3 separate regions of the Homo sapiens genome follow, and regions 1 and 2 are each linked to region 3. Evidence: fine-mapped expression QTL. A gene starts in region 3. Each other region holds a variant in brackets. All regions are shown on one strand. Distances are from middle to middle. Region 1 overlaps SERINC5 (serine incorporator 5). Region 2 overlaps SERINC5 (serine incorporator 5). Region 3 holds the start of SERINC5 (serine incorporator 5).

The links.
Region 1: its variant is fine-mapped to the expression of SERINC5 in whole blood (INTERVAL, PIP above 0.99).
Region 2: its variant is fine-mapped to the expression of SERINC5 in adrenal gland (GTEx, PIP above 0.99).

What each region holds. Positions count from the first base shown.
Region 1 is chr5:80,213,941-80,224,204 of GRCh38, forward strand. The region is part of intron 1 of SERINC5 (serine incorporator 5); the gene reads right to left. Among named protein-coding and RNA genes, the nearest start is that of SERINC5, 37 kb to the right of the region's middle. The variant C/T (reference allele first, on the strand shown) is at 4,263.
Region 2 is chr5:80,175,490-80,185,753 of GRCh38, forward strand. It overlaps SERINC5 (serine incorporator 5), which reads right to left. Exons shown (of 12, transcript NM_001174072.3): 3 at 2,397-2,575; 4 at 1,826-1,908. Among named protein-coding and RNA genes, the nearest start is that of SERINC5, 75 kb to the right of the region's middle. RefSeq lists enhancers at 7,644-8,464, 10,109-10,264 and silencers at 8,278-8,572, 8,838-9,132. The variant A/G (reference allele first, on the strand shown) is at 4,789.
Region 3 is chr5:80,252,330-80,261,265 of GRCh38, forward strand. SERINC5 (serine incorporator 5) reads right to left here and starts at 3,719. Exons shown (of 12, transcript NM_001174072.3): 1 at 3,567-3,719. The coding sequence starts at 3,593. RefSeq lists silencers at 3,202-3,481, 3,592-4,031, 8,121-8,415 and enhancers at 3,885-4,818, 4,819-5,752, 5,753-6,684.

The DNA of each region.
Region 1 (10,264 bases), 38 kb before region 3:
AAGCAAGAAAACAAAGATATACATAAGATGACTATCTACATGACATCTATTACACATCTAATACATGTGGTTTAAGAGAAGAAACCTAGATGTCCAATAAAAAGATTTAGATTTAAGATCAGTTAAATTACAGAAGGTTCATGTTGTAGAATATAATACACCCACTGAAATGATTATATAGGTTATACAGAAAAATTTATGGCCATGGAAAGACGTCCACACTGTATAAACTGAAAATAGTTAATATTAATAGTGTAGAGTATGATAGCATTTTGGGTAAAAATATAACAAGACATAGATCAGCACTAACAACAACAAAAAACAAACTAGAAGGATATATCAGTACATCAACAGTAGTAAACAGAGTTGTAGAATTATGAGTGACTATGCTCTTCTGTATTTTCTGAACTCTCTGCAACAAGCATACATCTTATAATTAGAAAAACATTACAGGTTTCTATTTTGGAAGAAAACAAAACATTCCTGTTCCACCTCATAGGTGGTAAGCCCTCAAATATTTGTTAAATGCATCAGACAATGAGTAAATCAAACCTACTTCAATGTGATTGGAAGAAAACAGCCAGAGTGAACTATCACCATAATTGAGGCATTAAAAAAACAAAAAAAAAACGAACAAAAAAACACCTCCTGTACTATACACTTGAAAATAGTTGGGTCAGGAGCAGTGGCTCATGCCTGTAATCCCAGCACTTTGGGAGGCCAAGGCAGGCGGATCACTTGAGGCTATGAGTTGGAGACCAGACTGACCAACATGGTGAAACTCTGTCTCTACTAAAAATACAAAAATTAGCCAGGTGTGGTGGCATGTGCCTGTAATCCCAGCTACTTGGGAGGCTGAGGCAGGAGAATTGCTTAAACCCAGGAGGCAGAGGTTGCAGTGAGCCAAGATCATGCCATTGCACTCCAGCCTGGGCAACGAGACTGAAACTCCATCTCAAAACAGTAGTTAAGATGGTAAATTTTATGTATGCATTTTTTACCCCGCAAGAAAAAAAAAATTCCTTAAGCCTTGTAAAACTTTATAGAGTTTAACTGATGTAAATAAACCAATACTTGGTAGAATTTGAAGCAATTAAAAATAAAATAAAAAAATTAAACAGCTATCGATATGGCTAGGATTTGTGTCCCCACCCAAAGCTCATGTTGAATTGTAATCCCTAATGTTGGAGATGGGGCCTGGTGGCAGATGACTGCATCATGGGGGAAGATTTCTGATGAATGGTTTACCACCATCCACTTGGTACTGTTCTCACAACAGGGAGTGTGTTCTCATGAGATCTGGTCATCTGAAGTGTGGGATATCTCCCACTCTCTCTCTCTCTTGCTCCTGCTCCTGCCATGTAAGACACCTGCTCCTCCCTTGTCTTCCGCCATGATTGGAAGCTTCCTGAGGCCTCCCCAAAAGCAGAACCTGCTATGCTTCCTGTACAGCTTGCAGAATGGTGAGCCATTTAAAGGTCTTTTCTTTATAAATTACCTAGTCTCAGGTATTTCTTTATAGTAATGCAAGAACAGATTAATACGGCTACCTAAAAGTTCAAGAAGTTAAACAGAAGCTATATATCTGCCTAGACTAGAAATATGCTCTTATAGTTCCTTTATCTGGGTTTCTTAAATTTTATTTTGAGTTCAGAGAATCCTCTAAAGCGCCAAGGCTTTCATCATCATGCCCATAACTGTGGCAGCAGTATTGTGGGGACTGTGAGAGATGAGTTTCTGGCAAGTGGTTTCTCAAACAAGTTTCAACATACTAGAGCGGTGTTATTTTCCACGTTGAACATTTCCATGAAACAAACAGTCAAGGGTCAACTTAGTATCTCCAGCCACCAGAACCAAGTCTGAAATGGGCAAGAAGAGGCTATGAACGCATACAAAGCCATCAGTCAGCTTTGGGGTTACAGTGGAGTCTGGGACAAAGATGTTCCCCTTTTTTGGAGTCTCTTTCTCAGGAGGTTAGGGCTACTTTCAGCACCAGAAGAATGTTTATCAAGTCCTCTGTTCTCAGACAGCAGTGGGATTATTTGAATCATTCCATCACAGGACCCTCTCTCTACCTTAAAATTAAAAATATCATATCACACTTGATACATTTTAGCAGGTTGGTGAGATCTATAAGGTTTGAGGTTGAGGGTAAACAACATCCCTTCTGACAGCTCAACAGAAAACAAACGTTCCTCAGGGGCAGGTCCTTCAGAGCAGCGTTTCTATCACTCGACACTATTGACTGGGGGCCAGAAAATTCTTTCTTGTCGGGGGCTGACCTGTACACTGGATGCTGATGTTCAGCAGCGCCCCTCCCTGCCTCTACCCGCTAGATGCCAGTCACAACTCCCCCTCTCCCCTGCAAGGCGTGATGATCAGAAATGTCTCCAGACAATGGCTCCCCAGTTAAGAGCCACTGAGTTAGGGGTGAAAAGCAAGAGCCATCTCCACAGTCAGACTGTGGGGTTCACCACCTTCAGTCTGAACACAGGAGAGCATGCTGGCAACTTATGTGTGTGAGAAAACTTGTTGGAAAGCTAAAGCCGTCTTTACACCTTCATTTCCACTGAGGAAAAAACAAGAGCTGTGGGAACATTCACTGGCACCCACTGAGGCAACAAATACCTGTGGCAGAACAGGGCTGAAAAGGTGAGTTAAGTAAGTTCTATTAAGAAAAAGGTATAAGAAAATGAAACCTTGAAACTCAAAACGGAGAAGTGTAGGAGACTGGGAGAAAACAAAAGTACCCATTGGGTTTTAAATATTTTTTTTTAATTAGTTTTAGGGCTGGGCACAGTGGCTCCTGCCTGTAATCCCAGCACTTTGGGAGGCCGAGGTGGGTAGATCGCTTGAGTCCAGGAGTTTGAGACCAGCCTGGGTAACATAGTGAGACACTGTCTCTACAAAAAATACAAAAATTAGCCAGGCATGGTGACACAAGCCTGTAGTCCCGGCTACTTGGAAGGCTGAGGTAGGAGGATGGATTGAGCCCAGAAGATTGAGGTTACATTGAGCTGAGATTGCATCACTGCACTTCAGCCTGGGCAACAGAGTGAGACTCTGTCTCTAAAAAAACAAATAAAATAAAATACAGTAAAAACTCGTTTCATTTATAAAGTAAGTTTGATGTTTACATTTTTATTCTTAATTTTTAATTTTAATTTTTTTATTTTGATATTTTTATTTTACAAATTTTTAATTAAAATAAGTTTATTTAAAAGTTTTATTTTTAATTTATAAAATAGTTAATTTTAAATAGTCTCAGCAAAAAAGAAGGTGGGCAGAAACCCTGCTCGTTCTACTTTATAAATAGTAGCTTATCAACCGGCAGCCAGTGAAACACTAAACCCAAAATTTGCCTCATTGTGTCATGGAGATTATGCTGCAAGGGAGAAACCTGCCAAGCCCTTTCCAAGAGGTGCTATGTGCCAGCCCAATCCCCAAACCCTGCCAAGCCACGGAGTGCTTTCTAGGCTGGTGACAGGCCCCAGTGCCAGCTAGATGCCCGTATGCTCGGGGATGGAAACAGAAAGGAGCTCATTTCACTGCTCTCAGAGAGCTGGAGTGCAGAGGACCTTAGAACTCAAGTGCACCAGAAGCTTCAAGAGTTTAGCGGCGAGTGAGCTCTTCTCCCCACCAAACGAAATTCTATGCACAATATGTAACACATATGGATGCAGTATAATACCAAAAATGCAGTTCTATATTCATACAGTATTTATTAAATGCTTACTAGTGACTGGGTACTGGTTCTAGGAGTTGGTAGTATAGTCCCTGCTCTCAGGAAACTCACATTTTAGTGGATTTTTTAATCAAACTCAGCATCCAGAAAATTCAACCTAAACAGGGCTACATCCCAAAACCTGCACTGGAAGTCCCTGATCTAGTCCAGTCCTCCTATTTTCCTGATGTGAAAACCGAGGCCCAGAAAGGTTAGGTGATTTGGCTCAAGGACAAATCTAGTGACAACCATCAGTGGAGCATCAAAAAACACATCAGTGCAAACAACTCAGCAGTCTGGAAAAGGAAGGAGCTAGTAACTCATCCTCTGGGTTCCACACTTCTGTATCTACTGTGCAATATACTAACAGACACTTGAGACAACTAAAGGAAGTCATCGTTAGTAGCTTTAAAAAACGCTCTGCTCCATCTCAAAAACAAACAAACAAACAAATGCTCTGCTGATCCTAGGAAGAAGGCAGTTTCAAGTGTCTCAGAGTCTAATACATTTTGAAAGGTTTCCCTCATGACAGTTAAAA[C/T]GAAAAGCCAGCATGTGTCGCATTAACCCTGGGGTGGCCACAAAACCGGTGTTCCTGGCTGGGCGCAGTGGCTCACGCCTGTAATCCCAGCAGTTTGGGAGGCCAAGGTGGGCGGATCACCTGAGGTCGGAAGTTCTAGACGAGCCTGACCAATATGAAGAAACCCCATCTCTACTAAAAATACAAAATTAGCCAGGCATGATGGCACATGCCCGTAATCCCAGCTACATGAGAGGCTGAGGTAGGAGAATCACTTGAACCCGGGAGGCAGAGGTTGCAGTGAGCCAAGATTGCATTATTGCACTCCAGCCTGGGCAACAAGAGTGAAACTCCATGGTGGCACGTGCCTGTAATCCCAGCTACTTGGGAGGCTGAGGCAGGAGAATCACTTGAACCAGGGAGTCGGAGGTTGCAGTGAGCCGAGATCACGCCATTGCACTCCAGCCTGGTGACAGAGCAAGACTCTGTCTCAAAAAAAAAAAAAAAAGTCTGGTGCTCTTGAACAGCTACAGGCTGTGCTATGGTAATGCCCACCCCCGACTACCTCCCTTCCTGCGCTTCTGAGAAGCTGACAGCCCCGACTAAATCACCCCACGTGCAGATTCAACCACTGGCCGCTCTCCCCACAAACCACATCACAGAAAGGGCTCACTGCTCAAAAGAACACCTCTGACCCATTCCACTGCCCAGTAACAATATGTTTCTCTTTCAAGGTGGTTAGTCTAGCAACAAGGGCTCTGAACAAGGAAAAACTTGCACGCTTCACCTACCCTAGATCCCATAAAATCCTGTTCTTTAGGATTCAGTGTCCAATAAAAGATGATTATTTCAAGTCTTTCTAATATTTTTCACATAAATACATAAATTAGAAAACAAAATGTCAGACAACAGGCCTCTGGTTTGGAAAACCACAGCTGTACCTGGATAGTACCAGTGCTCAGAGGCAAGATCAGGGGAAGGGGAAAGGGAGGCATGGGCCCACACTAACCTCTCAAGACGCATGTCCCTCCTACAGGGTCGCCCTCACTCCTCTAGCCCACCCCATGTTCTGGATGCCTGGTAGTGCCATGAAAGTCCTGGTTTAACAGCTTTTTTCTTGGAGTAACAGCTGCACTGTTTTCCTACAGCTGAGAAAACACTTTTTCTCACAGTTAACTTTAGCCTTCATCATCCCTCAAACTTCAGGAAACCTTCTTTCCAGCTCTTCCCTCTTTTCACCCTTGAAATTCATCTTCTTCTTCCACTTCTAGCTTGAAGTGGAAGGAACGAATAGGTGTGTGCCTTTCCCCCAAACAAATAGCCGCTGTTCATTGCCTTTTCAAGCAAGCACTGCCAGATGCCCAGTGGGTTTTATCAGCACCCCTCCACCCACTTCTGGAGCAGGTCCTCATTCCAAGGCAAGCTGGCACAAAGCCCTAGACAGCCTTTGTGAGGATGCCTGCATTCAAGCACCAGCTGCCTCGATGGCACCAACTGGCAGAGAACTGTCATGCAATTACCCCTTCGCCCCCAGCTTGAGAAACTCCTGTTTATGTTCTTAAAATACATTTGCAAAAGGAACCAGGGCCAAATGAAGGTGCTTATACTTATTTCTTCTATCATCAACAGAAATGAAAATAACCTTACATCACCACCCGCCAACCTTTACCTTTTTGTTTTTTTTCATTCAGGGTATTGGCTACACACAACCAAGTACGGGAGTACAGAGATAGAAGCAAGTCACAGGCCAGGCGCGGTGGCTCACGCCTGTAATCCCAGCACTTTGGAGGCCGAGGCAGGTGGATCACCTGAGGTCAGGAGTTCAAGACCAGCCTGGCCAACATGGCCAAACCCCGCCTCTACTAAAAATACAAAAAACTAGCTGGGTATGGTGGCACATGCCTGTAATCCCAGCTACTCAGGAGAGCAAGGCAGGAGAATCGCTTTAACTCAGAGGCGGAGGTTGCAGTGAGCCCAGACAGCGCCACCATACTCCAGCCTGGGCGACAGAGCAAGACTCTGTCTCAATAAATAAAAATAAAAAAAAAAAAGAGAGAGAGAGATAGAAACAAGTAACTTGCTCATATTGGCAGCGGTGTTCCCTCTACTTTTTAAAATTACAAGGCAGAAGTCTTCTATCAGCCCTAGATTGTGAAGACTAGCACTCCGGCAACAAAATCATACACAATGGACCTCAATGCCAGGCTGACTGAATGAATTGTTATTGGGCTGCAAAGTAAACAGGCCAAAGGGGTAGGCTGTTCAGGAAACAGATCTTAATTACTGTTATTTGTTCAGTCAAACCTAGCATTTATTTCTCCAGTCAGCTGGGTGGAGTGGATGTTGGACTGGGCAAAGAAGGCTCCTTTGAAGATTCTGGATCTTTCTCACCCCTCCTTCCTTCCCCTGCAAGGAAATCCAAGGCCTCAACACTCAGGGAGCCCCAAGTGGAGAGCTAGTTTGGGGCCAGGACACACCTGATTGATGCCGCCTCTGAGGTAGGCGCCTCTGAGTCACTGCCCTCCATGGAGAGAAAGGAATCTGAGGGCTCCAGACAGGAAACTGAGGGGTGAAGTGGGGAGGGGGGCAATCAAGTAGTAACTGGAAAAAAAAGGACTCTGATGTGGTGGTGGGAGTGGTGGTGGTAGGAGGGTGGCCTGGGGAGATGGAGGAGCCTGCTGGAGTGACAGGAACAGAGGTTTGGGAGGAGCGTGGATGTATGCATGAGACAGCAGGGAAGAAATGGGGTCTTGAGCAGCGTGGATGAGGGAAAAGAGCCAGGAAGTGGAGGAAGCCCCCCAAGAGTGGAGGAAGCCCCCCAAAACAGGTCAGCCCTGAGCAGAACAAAAGCAGAGACTGCCTCACTGCAAGAGCAGAGAGCACTCGGCCATGCTAGAGGACCTTGGCTCAATGGTACTCCAAAGGGGGCTCATGAACAGCTGCCTGGGCATCACGGGGAGTCTCAGCCTCCATCCCAGATCTGCTGAAGCAGAACTGGAGCCTGCAGGGTAAAAATAAATAAATAAATAAATAAATAAACCTTCCCAGGGGATCATCTGACATCAGCCGACAGCAGGCACATTTAACAATCCTGCGCACCTTTAATAATCCTGTGTTCAAGTGATGACAACACGCCACACACCCAACAGCCAGCTGCCCTCGCTCTTCATTCAGAAGGGTCCTTTGGTGATGGCAAATAACAAAAGCAAGTTTCCCGTGCGATCACACACGACTTCAATATAACAGATAAGGGAATCATGAGAGACTAGCATGCAGTCTCTGAAAAAGGTATCTGTAATTCAACCTGGAAAAAATGCTAATGGACACATCCTTAGGAGAGATGAATACACAAAAATATTAACCAGGATTATGGGATGTTAGATGGCCTTTGTTTACTTTATCTTGTCTATGTTTTCAAGGTTTAACATTAAGCACGAATTTCATAAGTTTTTTAAATGAAGAGAAAACTGCAATATTTTAATAGGTAAAGAATCAAAGAGTAGAAAAAAAGTAAAAAGCCTATTTAATTTGCTACCCACCATATAGGATATGTTTTGTTGTCTGTAAAATGCACTCCATTGGTCTACATTAAAAAGCAAGACAACTTTAGCAAAAAAAAAAAAAATCAATGAACATCAAAAGAAAATAAATACTATAAAATGAGTTTTGAGGATACCTTTAATGGCCAGACACGGTGGTTCACGCCTATAATCCCAGCACTTAGGGAGGCCAAGGTGGGAGGGTCTCTTGAGCCCAGGAGTTCAAGACCACCCTGGGTTGTGGGGAGACATCAGCTCTACAAAAAAATTTTCTTAATTAGCTAGGCGTGGTGGTGCCCATCTGCAGTCCCAGCTACTTGAGAGGCCGAGGCAAGGAGAATCACTTAAACGCAGGAGGTGGAGGTTGCAGTGAGGTGTGATCGCACCACCACACTCCAGCCTGGGTGACAAAGTGAGACTTTGTCTCAAATAATAATAATAATAGCTTTAATAAAAATGGTCCCAAGCTCACTCTCTAGGGTAAGCACTTTCCAGACACTGAGGAACAAACACAGAGGACGCAGGGGAAAATCTGCTACGCTATGCTCCCTGAAGAAGAATCACCCCCACTTTGCAACTGTGGATGGGCCACTGTTTCAAAGCAATTTCTCAGTGGCGGGACAAAGCTTTGCTGAATCATTATCTCCTGTTATTACCTCACATCATCACGGACAAGTTAGGTGTCTACAAGGAGACTCGAGAAATGTGATATGGTGGCCTCTGAAACAGAGATTTACTTCATAATAACAAAACTGGACCACGTGGGAACCAAATCCAAAATTGTGACCTCACCAGATCCAACCCAGAAGTTTTGGTGGGTTTTTTGTGGGTGAGTGTGTGAGTGTGTGAGTGTGTGTGTGTGTGTGTTTGAGACGGAGTTTCGCTCTTGTTGTCCAGGCTGGAGTGCAATGGAGCGATCTCGGCTCACTGCAACCTCTGGCTCCTGGGTTCAAGCAATTCTCCTGCCTCAGCCTCCCAAGTGGCTGGGATTACAGGTGCCTGCCACCACACCTGGCTAATTTTTTGTATTTTTAGTAGAGATGGGATTTCACCATGCTGTCCAGGCTGGTCTCGAACTCCTGGCCTCAGGTGATCCACCCGCCTCGGCCTCCCAAAGTGCTGGGATTACAGGTGTGGGCCACCATACCGGCCAGTTTTTTAGACAGTCTCACTCTGTTGCCCAGGCTGGAGTACAGTGGTACGGTCACAGCTTACTGCAGCCTCGACCTCCTGGGCTCATGTGATCCTTCCATTTTGGCCTCCCAACTGGCTGGAACTACTGTGCCAGAATGCCTGGCTAATTTTTTTTATTTTTTTATAGAGATGAGGTCTCACTATGTTGCCCAGGCTGGTCTTGAACTCCTGGACTCAGGCAATCCACCAGCATCAGCCTTCCCAGGTGCTGGGATTACAGGCATGAGCCGCTGTGCCCAGCCTAGCTTGCCTTTTCATAAACAAATATGCCTGGGATTTTATAAGGCATATAGCTATCCCTCAGTATCTGCGAGGGACTGGTTCCAGGACCCCTCGCGTGAATATCAAAATTCTCATATGCTCAAGTCCCTGATATAAAATGGAATTTGCATATAATCTATGCATATCCTCCTATATACTTTAAATTATCTCTAGATTACTCATAATACCTGATACAATGTAAATGCCATGTAAATTTGTTGTGCTATATTTTTTAATTTGTATTATTTTTATTGTTTTGTTTTTTTCCCCAAATATTTTTGATCCATGGTTTGTTCAATCCAGACACAGAATCCACGGATACAGAGGGCTGACTATATATATCATCATATTCTTTTATAAAATTATAACTGGTTAGTATCACTAACTTTCTCATGGTATACAGTAAGGATAGGCTATTCATGCTTTCTAAAGAATATCCCACCCTGAGAGCAAGTTCGAGGGTCAAAGTTCTAATTAAATTAAAATAAAATGCAATCATACAGACTAAATTCCTAGTACCCTACGCATCCAGAATGATTTGAAAGAATGCATTCCTGAGCTTGGCAGGGTGGGTAGCTCTCACCATAGCCAGGAATAGATGAAAACCTCAAGATTTAATCTGTGATGATACAACTATCTACTCATCAACGAGAAAGTTAGAAAAGTCAAGCCGGGCGCGGTGGCTCACGCCTATAATCCCAGCACTTTGGGAGGCCGAGGCAGGCAGATCACCTGAGGTCATGAGTTCAAGACCAGCCTGGCCAACATGGTGAAACCCCGTCTCAGATAAAAATACAAAAAAAAAAAATTAACTGGGCGTGGTGGCGGGCGCCTGTAATCCTAGCTACTTGGGAGGCTGAGGCAGGAGAATCGCTTGAACCTGGGAGGCAGAGGTTGCAGTGAGTGGAGATCCTGTCATTGCACTCCAGCCTGGGCGACAAGAACAAAACTCCGTCTCAAAAAAAAAAAAAAAAGAAAAAAGAAAAAGAAAAGTCAGAAATGAATCTGGGCACAGTGGCTTATCCCTGT
Region 2 (10,264 bases), 76 kb before region 3:
ACTCGGTTCGACTTCTGGCTCTGCCACAAAGACGCTATAACCTTGAATAAGTCACATCACATGGGTTCCAATTTGTCTATAAAAATCACTGAGCTGGGGCTGGGCACAGTGGCTCATGCCTGCAATCCTAGCACTTTGGGAGGCTGAGGCAGGGGGATCACTTGAGGTCAGGAGTCGGAAACCAGCCTGGCCTACATGGTGAAACCCTGACTCTACTTAAAAAAAAACTCCAGGCATAGTGGCGGGTGCCTGTAATCCCATCTACTCAGGAGGCTGAGGCAGGAGAATCACTTGAACCTGTGAGGTGGAGGTCACAGTGAGCTGAGATTGCACCACTGCACTCCAGCCTGGGTGACAGAGCGAGACTTGGTCTCAAAAAAAAAAAAAAAAAAAAAAGGACTGAGCTTGGCCGGCCGCAGTGGCTCACACCTGTAAATCCCAGCACTTTGGGAGGCCAAGAGGGGGCGGATCACAAGGTCAGGAGTTTGAGACCAGACTGGCCAATATGGTGAAACCCCGTCTCTACTAAAAATACAAAAATTAGCCAGGCGTGGTGGTGCGTGCCTATAGTCCCAGCTACTCGGGAGGCTGAGGCAGAAGAATTGCTTGAACCCGTGAGGCAGAGGCTGCAGTGAGGCGAGATCGTGCCACTGCACTCTAACCTGGGCAACAGAGCGAGACTCTGACTCTGTCTCGAAAAACAAAAAAAAGACTGAGCTGGACCAGAGGGTTTCTAGGTCTCTTCTCCCTCCAAATATACATTCTAATACATAAAAGGATCTCTGTAGAGAATTTTAAAACTTTTAACAGTATTTTAGGTAACAGCAAGACTTAGGGAGTACATGAAAAACAAGTATGACCTTAAACAACTAGCTAGGCCCTGATACATAACTATATGAAGGATTATGGCTGTTCCTTATAAACTGACACAATCTAAATGTTTAGTTTAGTTTTGTTTTTGAGACAAAGTCTCACTCTGTCGCCCAGGCTGGAGTACAGTGGTGCAATCTCGGCTCACTGCAACCTCTGCCTCCCAGGTTCAAGCAATTCTCATGTCTCAGCCTCCTGAGTAGCTGGGATTACAGGCACACACCACCATGCCTGGCTAATTTTTATATTTTTTAGTAGAGATGAGGTTTCGCCATGTTGGCCAGGCTGGTCTCAGACGAACTCCTGGCCTCAAGTGATCCACCCACCTCAGCCTCCCAAAGTGCTAGGATTACAGGTGTGAGCTACCACGCCTGGCCTAAATGTTTTTAATACCTTACTTAGGAAAGTGAATCCATTTGGGTTGAACAAAATGCTCTGAACCACTGAAATTCAGGTTTTTCCCTCAGCTCATATGAAAAAGGGCGCCCTGTTTCAGCTATGATTAAAGGCTTCATATTAATGAATTAAAGCAGGTTCTAACAATAAAGAATATAATTCAATGCTACAGAGCTTCACATACGGTAAGTTTAATAACAGACTGAAAGATGCTTTTCCTGTCCCACTATCGCTGCAGCAGACATTTAGCTGCTGACAGCCCTGCGCTCCCTGTTGCTGGGTTTTCTGTGCAGTGCTTGGAAAGAACAAGGTCTCCCAGGCCAGCAGAGTATCAGAGTCCTCTTACACCCTACCTGGAAGTGGGATGCGGTGGTGAGAAGAGGGGAGGTAGATAGGCAATGATGGAAAAAGTATGGGCAGGTAAGTCAGGAATTTCTTTTGAAGCCAAAAGAAAATCAGTAATTCTAACTATCAGAGGTACTTTGGACTGCGCTTCTGAGCAATTTGACAAAATGGGTAAAAACAAAATAAACAGATACCCAAAATACCCCATTAGTACCGTTCAGAAAGGTGTCCTGATCTGGAATGAAGAAAGCTCCTGAGCACATGGCCCCCAACAGCAGAAGTTTAAAGAACCAAAAGCTAGAAGTGGGGGGAAAAAAAAGAGGAAATGTATTTAAATGACATTCAAGAAGGACAAAGGACCTCGTAGAAGGTACAGCATGTCAATCCATGATTCTGCCATTGGCCAATGTTCTCTCCTAATCAAGGGGAAGTAACTAGGTGACTTGAAGAATGCTTTTTCCCATAATTAGGCAGACTCAGTGCAGCCTCCAGTTGTGCAAAACACCATTTCATTGCAGGGGTGGAAATGACCTGGGGGAAGGTCTTGGAACAAGAAATAAACTCTTTGTCTTGAGTAAATTTCGCATCATGGTACCAGGTGTTACAAATAAGATTCTACCTTTGAGGCAACCATGTGGGTAAGTATCAATTCCACCTTCCCCTAAATCAACAATTTCAACTAGAAGAAGGGCAGTCACAGTGTCTGGTGGGCAGATGGGATCCTGGACTACTGTCCTGAACATAAGAAAGGAGAAAGCAATCCCCAAGAAGACTAAAATACTTACCCATTGTGAATATGAGCTCTACAACTTTTGCTGTTGTTGATTTTCAAGGTCAGTAGACAGAAGATAAAGAAGAAACAAGCCATTCCAAAACAGACTCTATACACGGCAGAATATCCCACCAGCTTCTCACAGGTGTCACCAGCTTTAATGCCTTTACACATATCTTCAAAAAAAGGAATCTGAGGAGAAAGTTTAGAAAAGTCATCTGTTACAACTGAGTGAGAGGTGGACTGTCACGGAGTGTTCATGCAGCCAACCACAACATCCACTGTGGAAATGGATCGTGTGCATAAAGAAACAGACTGAGGATCTATCTTCTAAAGAGATATTTTTCTAATTTTCTCTGAATCTTTTTTAAAGATACAGTGATCATAAAGTAACACTCAGCCTTTACTTGCCCCAAATGACTTCTGAAATCCAACATCAGATTTTACAAAAATTACCTTTTTTTTAACCGCCCCCACCCCCACCCCCACCCCACCCCCGACCCCAAGACAAGGTCTCTCTGGCTCTGTTGCCCGGCCTAGAGTTTAGTGGCACAATCACAACTCACTGCAGCCTCGATCTTCCAGGCTCAGGTAATCTTCCTGCCTCAGCCTCCCAATTAGCTGGGACTACAGGCACGCACCACCATGCCCAGCTAATTTTTGTATTTTTTTTTTTTTTTTTTTTTTTGTAGAGATGGGGTTTTGTCATGTTGCCCAGACTGGTCTTGAACTCCTGAGCTCAAGCAATCCACCTGTCTTCGCATCCCAAAGTGCTGGGATCATCATAGGTATGAACCACTGCACCTGGCCTAAAATCCCATTTCAATACATGGATATATTTTTGTTGATATGTATACATATATACAAATAAAAAATCAGAGACTTCTTTTACTATCCACCCAAAATGTCACTCCTCTCCCTCAGAAGAGTAAACAATTGGTGGGTAGAGTATTTGTATTAATTCACATACATAAATGTGTGTGTATACATATATACAACACACTCACATATACATATACATACACAACACACATACATACACTCATATCATACTATGCATATAATAAATATATTAAAACAGCTTTTTAAAATAAAAGATTGTATGTAATGTTCTGCAATATTTTTTCCCAATTAACAATAAGCTGGGCCAGACACGGTGGCTCATGCCTGTAATCCCAGCACTTTGGGAGGCCGAGGTGGGTGGATCACCTGAGGTCGGGAGTTTGAGACCAGCCTGGCCAACATGTGAAACCCTGTCTCTACTAAAAATACAATAATGAGCCCGGTGTGGTGGCTCGTGCCTGTAATCCCAGCTACTAGGGAGGCTGAGGCAGGAGAACTGCTTGAACCTGGGAGGCAGAGGTTGCAGCGAGCCGAGATCGTGACACTGCACTCTAGCCTGGGCAACAGAGTGAGACTCTGTCCCAAAAAAAGAAAACAAAAATAAACAATAAGCCATGAAGAGTCTTTCTCTATTAATACGCAAAATCCCATCACATTCTTTTTCATCACTATCTTATACTGTAAAAAGGCTTGATCAAAATCAATAACCATTCTCACACTGATCTTAATTTTTTGTTGGGGAGGGTTTTTAAATTTTATTTTTTGTACTTGTTTTTTATTATCACAAACACTAATTCAATAAATACTGCTGTTCATGCCTCACTGCACCTGTGCCATTATTTATGTAGGACAGACACCTGAGCTAGAAATGGAATTAGTAGGTCAAGTAGTCAGGTTGAATGTCCCTTATCCAAAATGCTTGGGACCAGAAGTCTTTCAGAATTTGGAATATTTACACTATATTACTGGCTAAGGTTCCCTAATCCAAAAAAATCCAGAATGCTTCAGTGAGCATTGCCTTTGAGTATCATGTTGGCACTTTAAAAGTTTCAAATTTTAGAGTATTTCACATTTCAGATGTTTGGATTAGGAATATTCAACCAGTATCTACATTTTTAAACTTCAAGATGAGTTAAATCATACTTTCAAAGGCTGTACCAATTTACATCCTACCAGTAATATCTGAGATTGCACATTTCCCAACTTGGACATCTAATTTAAAGGCAAAAACCCAATATCCTGTTTTAAGGTACATCTTCCTTATTACTAGTGAGATTCAGCATCTTTTCTCAAGTTTATGGCCATCTGTTTTTTTTCTCTGAATTGGCTGTTAATTGGGTATTTTCTTGATCCACTGGAGCTCTTTATTAGTGGGTCTTAATCTTCTGATAAATGTTGACAATAGCTTATTCTAGCCAAATTAGAAGACTTCCACATGAAATAATCAGTTTCATTATCAGAATAATTAAAATCTTACACAATGAGAACAAGCAGCACATTCCTAGTAATGTCATAAAATAAGGATTTGGTCAGTCATAAAAACTTGCTTCTTATCAACATCA[A/G]AGTTGAACACTCTTCTGAACAGAAAATAAATCACATTATAACTATTATTCATAAGAAAAATAAAGTATCACAGAGAAAAAATAGCACAAAACTGAAGGTAAAAGGAAAGTGTGATAAAGAAGATAATTTACAGTTTCTTCTCCAGAAAAAGATACTGAAGAAACAATAATATCTGTGGCTATCACGATTTCCATAAACAAATGTCAACCCAAATGAGAGACTGAGGCAAGAGTCTCAATGGGGAATAATTAAGCCAGAGCTTGAGGGGCTGCTGAGAAACACACAAATCACAGAATCCTCTGTGGCTGGCGCTCCCAAAGAGGTTGCTCGGTATTTACCCATTTCTTTAAAGGGGAGAAGGCATGCAGGAAAAGGGGGCAGGTGGTGAGGCAAATGCAACATTCTCCTGAGATTTTAACTAGTGCCCAGTAAACTCCGCTATAAAAGAGATATGATAAACATTCAAAAAGGGAGTAAAGGAAGAGTTAATTATGTAGTCTCAGGGTAGGCAGAGAAATGACTGCTGTCCTGTCTTTGTTCTGCACCTGGGAAGATAAGCTTGTAATGGGCATTGTCAGTGTGAAATGTAACAGACTGCAATTCCGTGGACAGGGAGCTAGACTTAGATTGCAGACCTAAAGTTACAGCTGACATGTCCTTTTTTATGGGAAGATACACATCTTGAAAGGTTTAGGGACCAGCAGAGAATTTACTTATGAGCAATTTGAGGGCAGTCATCCGGGATGCACGAGGCCTTCTGCCTTCTCCAGGGGTGTGGCTAATGCATAGCGCTTTGACACAAGGTTGGGAAGTCGCAGCTATCTACTGGGCAGGGGGGCAAGGTGCGAGGGGACAGCAGCAGTGTCACGTGACTGTCTCTCCAGTCTTAAGTTTCCATTTGGCATAAAGAGTTTGGGCAGTCCTGAGAGGGTTTATTTTCCTTTACACAAACAAACAAAGAGTTCCATTTTCTCCCCACTCCTTTTTGAGACAGGGTCTCACTCTGTACCCAGGCTGGAGTGCAGTGGCGCAATCTTGGCTCACTGCAACCGTCGCCTCCAGGGCTCAAGCCATCCTCCTACCTCAGCTTCCTGAGTAGCTAGGACTACAGGCATGCACCACCAAGCTCAGCTAATTTTGTGTGTGTGTGTGTGTGTGTGTGTGTGTACAGTTGGTGTTTCACCATGTTGACCAAACTGGTCTCGAACTCCTAGACTCAAGCAATCCACCTGCCTCAGCCTCCCAAAGTGCTGGGATTACAGGTGTCAGCCACTGTACCTGGCCAGCTCCATTTTCATGAAGACATGTGAAAGACTTCATGAGGAAATAGCCAACATTTTGTTTTCAGCAAATTCCTAAAACTGTACATTTTTTATGACTTTTTTTTTACACCATTTTGTCACAACAGAGACAAGATGTTTTGCTTGATAAAGACTGCATCCAACCAGATAAGTAGATAAACAAGCACAGTCTTCAACTATCAGTCCTCACTGGAGGACTCTGTGGCCATAAAAAGGGTAGGTACGGTTCTAACTCGTGACAAGCACCTGGCATCTGCCCCGAAGGCTCTGCCCACATCAAAGACTGTTTCTTGCACAACCAACCAGATTAACCAGCCCAGACCAGGAAATTCTTTTTTTCTTTATTGCTCTCCCTGGACTACTTCATTAACCCTTTTCCTATTCCCTTTCTCTTAATGTTAAATGTTATTTTGTTTGTTGCACAATGTTTAATCAGTAACATTTATATATTGACAGAGTATACGATTGTGTACGGTTTGCAATACTGACTGGCTGGTGCAGAGGCTGGAACCTGTGTGCCTGCAGATCTAATGAGTGGATGAGAAGTACTAAGAAGAATTGGCTCCCTGGGAACTCCACATAGCTGGTGGCTTTTGTAACTGAAATAGCATCAGTTAAGTCCAACATTATGGAAAGACACAAATGTTCGTGGACCTGGTTACCTCTGACCTTGGCGTCACTCACAAAAACCAAGATATGCCACCCTAAAACATTCTTCTTTGCGTATTTCAAGCTCGTTATTCTGAGAAGCTGAAGACACAGGAGTAGCTCTGCAAAGCTGCTGTTTTATACAAAAAATTTACATCTGTAGAGGAAATCTACATTAGTAAAGTGTATCAGACGTTTATTCACCATACATTTCTTCCCCTCACTCTCCCATTACGTGTTGCCAGCAACTCCCAGAGGCCCCAAGCCCCTATTCCTCTCTGTAGCTCAACATGCCATAAGCTTCTATCATCTGACCGCCCCCCCCCCCTCCGCTTTTTTTTAATTGAGACCTCTGTTGCCCAGGCTGGAGTGCAGTGGCGCAATCTCGCCTCACTGCAACCTCTGCCTCCCAGGTTCAAGTGATTCTCCTGCCTCAGCCTCCAGAGTAGCTGGGATTACAGGCGCCTGCCACCACGCCTGGCTAATTTTTGTATTTTTAGTAGAGATGGGGTTTCACCATGTTGGCCAGGCTGGTCTTGAACTCCTGGCCTCAAATGATCCGCCCACTTCAGCCTCCCAAAGTTCTGGGATTACAGGCGTGAACCACCATGCCCAGCCTATCTGACCCTTTTTAAAATTGCTTTTTCTCCTGTAATTGGTCTTATGTCAATTTAATTTGCTTCCAGAGAAAGAACCTAGAAGAGTGGAAGGAAGCCATTTTTCCCTTCTCTACAAAGGCAAGGTCTTGCTGGGAAGGGCCAGGTGCATGCCAGACTTAGCAGTCAGGCCCCCATCCTGTAAGCAAGGGGAAAAGCACTACTGAAGCTAGAACACCTTTGGCTACAAAGTGGAAGACGTGGTGAAAGGGTACAGACTTGAGGCAAGGGGACAAGTTTGAAGGCCACTGGGAACAGGTGAAGAAGGTAACCCCAGGCAGAGAAACCAGAGATTCTGCAGGTAGAGCTCACAATTGGCAGGAGAGCACAGATGACAAGAATGAAGCACAAGAATGAGACAAAGCTGTTTTGTTTTCTTCTTTTTTTATGGCATTGCCGTTTGGGGTGGAGGGAGGGTGGAGGGCAGAGGACAGACAGCAGAAGTGAAGAACAAAGCAGGAGTTTGCTCTTTAACACCTTAGGGCATCACCAAGGGGTATCCCAGCGAGAACAGTCTGGTCTGGAAATTGCTTTAGAACAGCAATTGGGGCTGGATACAGGAAGTGTCAGGCCTCTGAGCCTAAGCCAAGCCATCTCATCCCCTGTGACTTGCACGTATCCCCTGTGACTTGCACGTATACGCCCAGATGGCCTGAAGTAACTGAAGAATCACAAAAGAAGTGAAAAGGCCCTGCTCTGCCTTAACTGATGACATTCCACCATTGTGATTTGTTCCTGCCCCACCTTAACTGAGTGATTAACCCTGTGAATTTCCTTCTCCTGGCTCAGAAGCTCCCCCACTGAGCACCTTGTGACCCCCGCCCCTGCCCACCAGAGAACAACCCCCTTTGACTGTAATTTTCCATTACCTTCCTAAATCCTATAAAACGGCCCCACCCCTATCTCCCTTCGCTGACTCTCTTTTCGGACTCAGCCCGCCTGCACCCAGGTGAAATAAACAGCCATGTTGCTCACACAAAGCCTGTTTGGTGGTCTCTTCACACCGACGCGCATGAAAGGAAGCACCCGCAGGCGGGTAATGAGAAGTCAGTCACACAGGTGCTTTCTGGAGGAACCTCAATTTTTAGCTGTGTTTAAACATGAGTGATGAAACAGCATGGTTAAAATTTTCAGGTGCTGAAATATGGTAGGGGACACACACAAAAATGAATGTTTCAGAGAGTCTAACCCAAAACAAAAGTTACACCTGTATGAGTAGTGCCAGTAACGAGGAGGTAATATTGCTTTGAATCTCTAAAAGCTACATTCATGGAGAAGCCATACCACTTCATTCATTAGGCTGTTTCATTTACACAGGATTTATTGCTCTAAAACATTCCCTAAATTATTTTCTTCCCCACCTTCTCTCTTCTACTCCATCAGCAACTCTAATTCCTGAACCACATCTTCCCCATAACACATGCACATTAGCACCTCTTTCATCTATACCAGCCCATCTTTCACCTTTAGACCTTCTCTGCCTCCCTACCTCTTTTTTCTTCCTCCAAAATCCATTTCAAGGAGAATGCTAACAGCAGCAGGCTGAGCCACCATCCCCAACAAATCCCCTCCCTTGTTTGCTTACTCCAGAATCTGGAATGCGGCCAGGGCCCTTTAAGGCTCATCACAGGGTGAGTACATTGACACTGTATATTCATCAAAAACAGGTAAACAACCCCCCTGCTCCAAATCCTAATCAAGACCTCCTTTATACTCTGTGGGTGACTTAGCACATTTAGTTTTCAGTATGTGGTAAGTATTTTTGGGCAAAGAACCTCCAAGGTGAACAAGCTAGCAGGATTCTGGCAAGGGGAATTTGCTCCGATTAAATATTTGCTGTTCCAAAGTCCACCCCATTTTTGGAAAAAGAAAAAATACATCACATACAAATTCCACACCACAGGGTGAAAGGAATGTGCCTGCTAAGGGTGTTACCTCTTAAGTCTGGCTCTGGGCACCCAAGGACAGGGCACTTAAGCCAGGCTCACACACTGTATGTTGTTTCTTTTTTTTGATGCAGTCTTGCTCTGTTGCCCAGGCTGGAGTGCAGTGGCGCAATCTCGGTTCACTGCAACCTCTGCCTCCCAGGTTCAAGCGATTCTCCTGTCTCAGCCTCCCAAGTAGCTGGGATTACAGGCATACACCACTATGCCCAGCTAATTTTTGTATTTTTAGTAGATGGGGTTTTGTCATGTTGGCCAGGCTGGTTTCAAACTCCTAACCTCAGGTGATCTGCCTGCCTCGGCCTCCCAAAGTGCAGGGATTACATGCGTGAGCCACCGCATGCAGGCTGTATGTTGTTTCTATACAGACCCCTGAGAACAAGGCGTTTCCCTCCAACCCTCAAAGCAACCAAACTCAAAGCCACAAACTATCAAGTAAGAATAAACAGCTCATAAGACTTCCATTCCTAACTCCACTGCTAACTTGAGCTAGCTACACACATACACACCCTGAGCCTCAGTTGTGCCATCTGTAAAATGAAACAATACCGACACCCATTTCATGGAGTTGCCTGAGAATTACATCAGATAACACCTGTGAAGTGCTTACCACGGTTCCTAACCCATAGTAGTCATTAAGTTAACTTCTTTAATTCTAAAGCACTATTATGTTATATTTCATGCGCGTCCGTGTGAAGGGACCACCAAACAGGCTTGTGTGAGCAATAAAAGCTTTTAATCACCTGGGTGCAGGCGGGCTGAGTCCGAAAAGAGAGTCAGCAAAGGGAGATAAGGGTGGGGCCGTTTTATAAGATTTGGGCAGGTAAAGGAAAATTACAGTCAAAGGGGGTTCGTTCTCTGGTGGGCAGGAATGGGAGTCGCAAGGTGCTCAGTGGGGGAGCTTTTTGACCCCGGATGAGTCAGGAA
Region 3 (8,936 bases):
GATTACAGGCAAGAGCCACCATGCCCAGCCTGCACTGTCATTTTCTGTAGCTAACTTCCCCCAACACTCCCACCTCCACATAGCCCTTAAGTTAAAGGAGAACAAGGAAGCCCTGTGTTCATTACCGTGTCTCTAGGGGCCTAGCACAGAACTTTGAACCCATAAAGTGTTGAGTGACCACTCCCCTGTAATCTCTACTTTCTTAGCATCCATTAGCCAACAGCCTAAGCAAAACCAAAGTGAATATCAGAGTAGATACAAAAATAAAATAAGCTGATCTGGATATTATCCTGATGCAGATGGGTAATGGCCACTAATAAGATTTGGGGGGTTCCTCACACTCTGCCAAATCCTATATTACAGACTTTACACTTATCATCACATGTAATTTTCCCAATAACCCTAAGAAGTACCCATTCAATAGTTGAGGTAAAATGAGGTCATAGAGGGTAAGTAACTCATCCAGTCACACCAGTCCTCATTGTCCAGATTTCCAAATTGAAACCCAGGCCTGAGTCCAAAGCCCAGGCTCTTTTATGGGTTACATATTGTTCAGGATGGTCCGCAGTTAAAGAAAGTCACCAAAATGTCTCTCTCCGACCTCAAACTTCTCCCGACCTAAATACCTAATTGGTGACTTGCCATTTCCATTAAATTTATAATAGGCATCTCTAATGTAACGAAGCCAAGAAACTTGGGTTTTCCTCACCAAATGTCCTCTTCCTAACAATTTCCTACTTCACCTCAGTAATGCGATCATCATCTACCCAGTGGCTCAGGCCAGAAACCGAGCCTGTCTCATTCCCACATCCCACTTCTAATCCTTGCTCAAATCCAGTTCTACCTCTGAAATATACCCAAAGCCAATGATGTCCCACTGTACTCACTCCTACAGCCATAGCCTAAATTAAGGTACCACGCTGTCTCCTCCTGGGACTACAGCAACAGCAGATTGCCAGGATTCGAGCTCCATCAGGAAAGGATTTTTGTTCACTGCCGAAGCCTAGAACACTGCTTGCCCCTAAGAGGCAAATATCCACTTAGGTTTTCCTCACCAACTGCTTCATGACCAACTCGAACTGCTTTCCTCACCTCCACTCTAGCCCGTTACAGTCCAGTCTTCACGACATCCCAATTATCTTCTAAGTGCAAATCAAACCACAGCTCGCCCCTGCTCAGAATCCTCCCACAGCCTCTCACTGCAACCAGAATTAAATCCAAAGTCCAAAGGCAGCTGACAGGTTCTGGCCATTTCTGGTCCTGCTCTTCTCTCTGACCTCATCTAAGACACCCCAGCCACCCTAGACTCCCTTGCCTCTCCTCACTGAGCAGTCTCAACTCCACAGGCATCTTCTCAGACTCCCTCGGCAACCCTCCTCAAGGCTGCTTACCACACGGCCTTCTGACAGTACCAGTACCATATTCATTGTTTCATTGTTTACATGTTTATGAATGATCTCCCCTGCCCAGATAGGCCATTGAGAGCAGAGATGCTTGTCTGACTTATGACTATATAGCAGGCTCCTGGCAAAAGGCAGGTGCCCACAGAAACAAACAAGAATTGGTAACTTCTGACGGTGCTGTGAGGTTTTGTTTGCTTTCCTTTCTTTTGAGATGGAGTTTTGCTCTTTTTGCTCATTGCCCAGGCTTGAGTGCAATGGCGTGATCTCAGCTCACCACAACCTCTGCCTCTGGGTTCAAGCGATTCTCCTGCCTTAGCTGTGTAGCTGGGATTACAGGCATGCGTCATCACACCCGGCAATTTTGTGTTTTTAGTAGAGATGAGGTTTCTCCACGTTGGTCAGGCTGGTCTCCAACTCCTGATCTCAGGTGATCCGCCCGCCTCTGCCTCCCAAAGTGCTGGGATTACAGGCATGAGCCACTGCGCCCAGCCTGTTTGCTTTTCTTTTAACTTCCTACCGCCCCATCCACAGGAAATCACAGTGTGATCACCATCACACAGCACTGAGGCCCACCACAGTGATGCCTCCAGCAGGCCTGGGAAAGCAGGGGTTAACTTTGATTTGGTTCTTTCCAAAGTCCTAAGAGGGGAGACTTTAGAAACCTGCTAAAACATCAACAGCAAAATAATTCTTTTACAAAACCCATTTGAATACTGGTAATTACAGAGCTCTAAATTAGGAACTTGGGAATGGCAGAAAGAGCCTCAAGGGGACTTCAAGGGACCAGGACAGATGCCCCTAAAGAGCTGTATCATTACTACGTAATAAAAAGTGTCGCATCATATTGGAGAAAAAGTATTTCAAAACGGGAATAAAAGATTTGCAGAGCTTTCTGAAAACAGTCTTTCCTGGTCCACCTTGTTCTCAAATACCTGGTAAGGTGGTGACCATTCTCATTCTCTTTCTCTCTCTGCCTGACACAGGGAAAAAAAATCATTTCGTCTCAGTCGTCAAAAGCCTCAATTTCCTCAACTCTGAAAAGGCCAGCTTTAATGTATGCCAAGCACAGTATTAGACCTCAAAAACCAAGACAGCTCCACGTGGCCACTCTAAACAGGACAGATTATCTGCCAGTATAATCGCCGGTTACAGAAACCCACAGTTTAACCACTCCATCACTTACAGCTGGCCTCGATTGTGGAAAGGCTGAGTGTCAGCAAGAACACCCCGAACCAGGATGCTCCCTAGAGTCTGATTCGTTCGTGAAAACACTCCATTAAAACTCTGTACCGAAACGCTGATAATCCACATGTAAAGGGAGAAAAGAGCTCCACATCCAAGAGACTCACCTACTTCGTTTTTTCTAACTCTGCAGGAAGGAGTGAAACCAGCATTACAGGGCTAAGACGTACTAATTCTACACTGATGCAGTAACTGGTAGGAGACATAATGTTTTAAGACATCATAGGTTTAAATAGGCGAGAGTTAAAAAACAGGTTCGAACAAGTTTATTTGCAAAGAGAGGCAGGAAGGTTCCAGCCCTACCCAGGCAGTCGTGCTAGTACCGAGCCAGGGTTGGGTCGGGAAATTCAGGAAGCAGGGCTGAGTTTTCCCTTCGCCCAGACCTGCGCCCGGTAGTTTGGAAGTCAGGCTTCGAGACATTCTCAAAGGTACAGAGCCCACGCTCGACTACGAGATGCCAAGCGCAACCTGCCTGGGTTGTTTGACCCGAGTTTTATTCAGGGCATAGCAAAGGAGACGGTGCCTAAACCCACTTTTCTTCCTGGATTCATCCGACAAGCAGAGTGGAGAGGGCTACGGAGCTCAGCGCTATTCACCAGTGCTCGGCGCAAGAGGCGACACGCCCCTGGAGCAGTCGGGATCCTCCGCCCGAGCCCGGCACGCCCCGCTCCACGCGGAGTCCCGGAGGCCGGACGGGAAGACCCCGGGGTAGCCTCTCGGGCTTCCCCCTGCCCCTTCCCGCCCGCCCAGGGCACAGGATTTCCCGGACGGCTGAGCGCCGCGGGGCCAGCCCGAGCGACCCACCCGGGCCCTACGTTCGGCCGCGGAGCTGGGAGCGCACCCAGGCAGGTCCTCCACGCCTGGACTCCTGGCCCGGTTCTCCGATCTGACAACCCCCGCGCTGCGCCCGGCCTCGCTCACCTGGCCCGCACAGCACTGAGCTGACATCGCGGCGGCCAATGCCGAAGGCGCGCTCGCTGGCTCCCCGCGCCGCACGGGCCCTCCTGGCTGCCTCGCGCCTCGAGCGCTGGGCTCAGCCGCAGCTCACACTTGAACGAAGATCAGCCTCGGCGAAGCGCCTAGGCGCCGAGGCCTGGGTAAAAACAACTGCGGCCAAGCCCCGCCCCGCCGCCGGCCCCGCCTCGCCCGCCCCCAGCCCCGCCCCGTGCCCGCCCCTTCCCGGGCGCCCGGCGGCGGAGCAGGCTCGACCCGGGCTCGCACTTCCGCTGGCGTCAGGCGGGTGGGCTGCTGCGATCACTTCCCGGTTGGGGCGCCGAGCTCCGGAGTCGGCCGCCAGCCTTTGGGCCCCACGCTCCGGGTCTGGTGCGCGGTCTGGCCGCGCTCGGGCCCTCGCCAAATGAGAGCGCAGCGCCTCTCCGCCTTCGGATCCAGAGAAAGAGCTTGTTGCTGCCTCTAAAAGGTTGGAGCCTTAGTAAGCGGTTCCTGCCTTTCCTGCACAGACCAGACCGCCGGGTGCTGGTCTGCGCTCTGCCGCGCGCCGACTGGGACAGCCCACCCACGAGATCCTTGTTCCTGAAATCCCTTTCCTTCCCTCATCTGCCAAGAAAACTTTCAACTTTTGGGCTCTCCGCGCCTCCCAAGCTTCCTCGAATCCCTGGGCCCTTGACTGTTCTGCCCTGATGGCACTTGGTGAGAGATCCATTGAGAGCCCTTTCCGTGCCTTCCTGAATATTGATATGTTTTCCAGCCTCTCCTCCTGCGCTGGCCCAAGGACTCATTTTCCGTCCCTGCTTCCTCACTAAAAAGAGGGTGCCCAATAATTGCTTGTTCCATACAGAAGGCAGGGAGGCCGTCTCTAGGTTTTCTCCCACTCAGATCTGCTGTCCTCACAGCCACCTCCCCAAGAGGAATGAAGGTATTTCTTTTTTTTTTTTCTTTTTTTTCTCTGAGACGGAGCTTCACTCTGTCGCCCAGGCTGGAGTGCAGTGACGCGATCTCGGCTCACTGCAACCTCTGCCTCCCGAGTAGCTGGGATTACAGGCGCCTGCCACCACGCCCGGCTAATTTTTTGTATTTTTAGTAGAGACGGGGTTTCACCATCTTGGCCAGGCTGGTCTCGAACTCCTGACCTCAGGTGATCCGCCCGCCTCGGCCTCCCAAAGTGCTGGGATTACAGGCGTGAGCCACCGCGCCCTGCCGGAATGAAGATATTTCTGTTAGTGCGATTTTTGCGCCAATCCCTTTGCTCTTTCAAATAAGCATTACCGTACCCATTTTAGCGGTGAGGCAACTGAAGCCCAGAGAGGTTAAATAACTTGCCCAAAGCCTCACAGCAAAGTTGAGGAAGTAAAACTGGGCCTGGAATCCACTCGTCTGATCCCCTGGCACATGACGCAAGGCTTGACCTTAGAGGGACTCGTTTCCAGACAGAGCTCTGGCAAAGGAGTGTCTTGGGCAGCTTAGGAGTAGAAGAGGAAAGGTGAATGGAAACCAGGCCTTGGGTTATGAGCTGCGCAGGATTTTCCAGCATCTCAGATGCAGGCGTTTAGAGAAAGAGATATAATGGAGCAGGCCCTACTCAGAGCCACGAAAAGGAATGAGGACAGTTGGCTCTAACTCAAAACAAAAATAGGGTAAACCCAATCAGTCAAGCGCAGCAACCTGCTCCGTGGCGATCTGTGACTCATCAGAAGCTGAGGCTCTCACCAGGACTTTCTAATGAGCTTCGCTGTTGGCTACGACCGCGGTCACTTCACTTCAGCCCTACTCCTGGCCTGGGGAAATGGGCAGGCCCCCTAGTAGCTCGGGGTGGGGAGACGGGTGGAGAGGAAGGAGGGGCGAAAAGGGAAGGCGCGAAATCTACAAATGTTTAAGCCAGCTGGAACTCCGATGCCTCTTTGCCTTTTAGGGAAATTGACTCGACTCGGAACTCGAGGACCTTTCACAAGAGACCACTGGGTTAGGGGGCAGAGCTGGTAATAGAATCCAGCGCTCCGAACCCTGAATCATGTCCTCTTTTTGCTGCTGAGGCTCAGGCCACAGCACCCCAAATTATGACTGTAGAATACCAAAATATGCTATCCCAAAATACACTTGTTTGGCACATTTCAAGCTGGTTATTCTGAGAAACTGCAGACACGGGAGTAGCTCTGAAAAGCTGTCCTTTTGTAAAGCAAATTTACATCTATAAAGGAAGTCCACATAGTAAAAGTATCTGTGTCAGGAAGGCAGCTGCTCAGAGAACTTTTATTACATGAGAGACTTTACATAACAAGGCAACTTTTTTTTTTTTTTTTTTTTTTTTTTTTGAGGCAGAGTCTCGCTCAGTCGCCCAGGCTGGAGTGCATTGGCATGATCCCGGCTCACTGCAACCTCCGCCCCCCGGGTTCAAGCGATTCTCCGGCCTCAGCCTCTGAAGTAGCCGGGATTACAGGCGCGCGCCACCGCGCCCGGGTAATTTTTGTATTTTTAGTAGAGACGGGGTTTCACCATGTTGGTCAGGCTGGTCTCGAACTCCTGACCTCGTGATCCGCCCACCTCGGCCTCCCAAAGTGCTGGGATTACAGGTGTGAGCCACCGCGCGCAGCCACAAGGCAACATTATTTACCATACATTTCCTCCACTAACCCTCCTATATCCTACCTGTGGTGCCTCCCCACTGTCCCCACAGAAGCCCCAAGCCCTTATTTATTTCTAGCTCAGAATGCTATAAGCTTCAATCATCTGGCCCTTCATGTTTTGTGAGATTCCTGTGCTGCTGCGTATGCAGGTAATTAAAACGGTTTTTCTTCTGTTAATCTGTCTTATGTCGGCCAGGCGTGGTGGCTCATGCCTGTAATCCCAGCACTTTGGGAGGCCGAGGTGGGCGGATCACGAGGTCAGGAGTTTGAGACCAGCCTGACCAACATGGTGCAACCCCATCTCTACTAAAAATACAAAAGAAGTAGCCGGGCGAGGTGGTGCGCACCTGTAATCCCAGTTACTCAGAAGCTGAGGCAGGAGAATCGCTTGAACCCAGGAGGCGGAAGTTGCAGTTAGCCGAGATTGTGCCACAGCACTCCAGCCTGGGCGACAGAGCAAGATACCGTCTCAAAAAAAAAAAAAAAAATCTCTGTTATGTCAATTTAATTTGCAATCCAAGTAAAGAACCTAGAAGGGTAGAGGGAAGCCATTTTTCCCTCCCCTACATTGCTAGTTCCATGCCAATGTGAGAGGACTCTGAGAATGTGGATGTCTGCCACCTGGAGAAAGAGTCTTAATAACCTGGGCACTTGGCCAGGCACGGTGGCTCACACCTGTCATCCCAGCATTTTCAGAGGCAAAGGTGGGTGGATCACCTGTGGTTAGGAGTTCAAGACCAGCCTGGCCAACATGGCGAAACCCTGTCTCTACTAAAAATACAAAAATTAGCCAGGCAGGGTGGTGGGCACCTGTAATTTCAGCTACTCAGGAGGCTGAGGCAGGAGAATCACTTGAACCCAGGAGGCGGAGGTTGCAGTTAGCCTAGATGGTGCCATTGCACCCCAGCCTGGGCAACAAGAGCAAAATTCTATCTCAATAGATAAATAAATAAATAACCTGGGGACTTGTAGCCTCTATTGAAAGGTACCAGAAAAGGATAAAGCCTGAGTTTTCAAGCCAGGAAGTTGCAAATTCTAACTCTACCAAGAAGTAGCTGGGTGACCTCCAAGCCTCAGTTTCCTCATCTTCAAAACCAGGTTAATAGTGTCAGAGGCATTTGAACCAGAGAGACTCCATCTTGAATAGGGACTGGGTAAAATAAGGCTGTGACCTGCTGGGCTGTATTCCCAGGAAGTTAAGGCATTCTTCGAGGATGAGATGGTGGGGGTCAGCACAAGATACAGGTCACAAAGACCTTGCTGGTAAAATAGGATGTAGTAAAGGAGCCGGCCAAAACCCATCAAAATCAAGATGGCGACCAAAGTGAGCTCTGGTCGTGCCCACTGCTCATTATACACTAATTATAATTCATTAGCATGCTAAAAGACACTCCCACCAGCACCAGGACAGTTTACAAACATCAGGAAGTTACCCTATATGGTCTAAAGGAGGAGGAACCCTCAGTTCTGGGAATTGCCCATCCCTTTCGCGGAAAACTCATGAATAATCCACCCCTTGTTTAGCATATAATCAAGAAATAACTATAATTAGTTGAGCAGCCCATGCTGCAGCTCTGCCTATGGAGTAGCCATTCTTTACCTCCTTTACTTCTCTAATAAATTTGATTTCACTTTATGGACTTGCCCCAAATTCTTTCTTGCGTGAGGTTCAAGAACCCTCTCTTGTGGACTGGATGAGGACCCCACTCTGGTAACAATATACTTTTTGTCCAGTCACATTTCTACATGGCTGTCCATACTCTGTTGAATGTAAGCATAAGAATGGACAATTTTGCTGTATCTTTGGATCTTCATTCTGAAGGCTCCCATGGCATGTAAAACTATGATCAAATAAATTTGTATGCCTTTTTTCCTTTTAATCTGCCTTGTCGGTTGATTTTCAGTGAAACTTCAGAGGGTAAAGGGGAAGTTTGCCCTTCACCCCTACATGGTCAAGCTCAAGATACCAAAAGACATCAGCTGAAAATTCAATCAACTTGCCTGAATCATCCACCCCAAGCTTAGGAAGCATGCTTGAACCCACCTGGCCAAGGCTGGTTTTGCCGGCCAAAGTCCAAGGCCAAGGCTCCAACCAAAGCCCAGACTTCAGTTGCAGCTCCAGTTCCAGTTCCAGTTCCAGCTCCAGTTCCAGTTCCAGTTCCAGCTCCAGATCAAATTTCCAAGGGTGCCCATGCACACCCACAAAGGATCTGGAGGAGAGGCCTCTGTCTACCAATGGGAGGACAGAAGGACTGGTGTGAGCCCTGGGCTGCCATCTGTTTCTGCATGGAGCTGGTACCATTCTTTTCTATTTATACAAACAAACATGAGGCAGGATCTGTCCATTAAAAAAAAGAGGCCGGGCACAGTGGCTCATGCCTATAATCCCAGCATTTTAGGAGGCCGAGGTGGGTAAATCACCTGAGGTTGGGAGTTCGAGACCAGCCTGGCCAATATGGTGAAACCTCTTCTCTACTAAAAATACAAAAATTAGCCGAGCGTCGCGGCACATCTTTAATCCCAGCTCCTCAGGAGGCTGAGGCACAAGAATCACTTGAACCCAGGAGGTGGAGGTTGCAGTAAGCCGAGAAAACACCACTACACTCCAGCCTAGGCGACAGAATGAGGCTCCATCTTGAAAAGAAAAAGAAAATTAAAAAGAAACAGTCTATACAGGCTCATTCCCTTTCCCCACTCAGAGTTTTTTCAA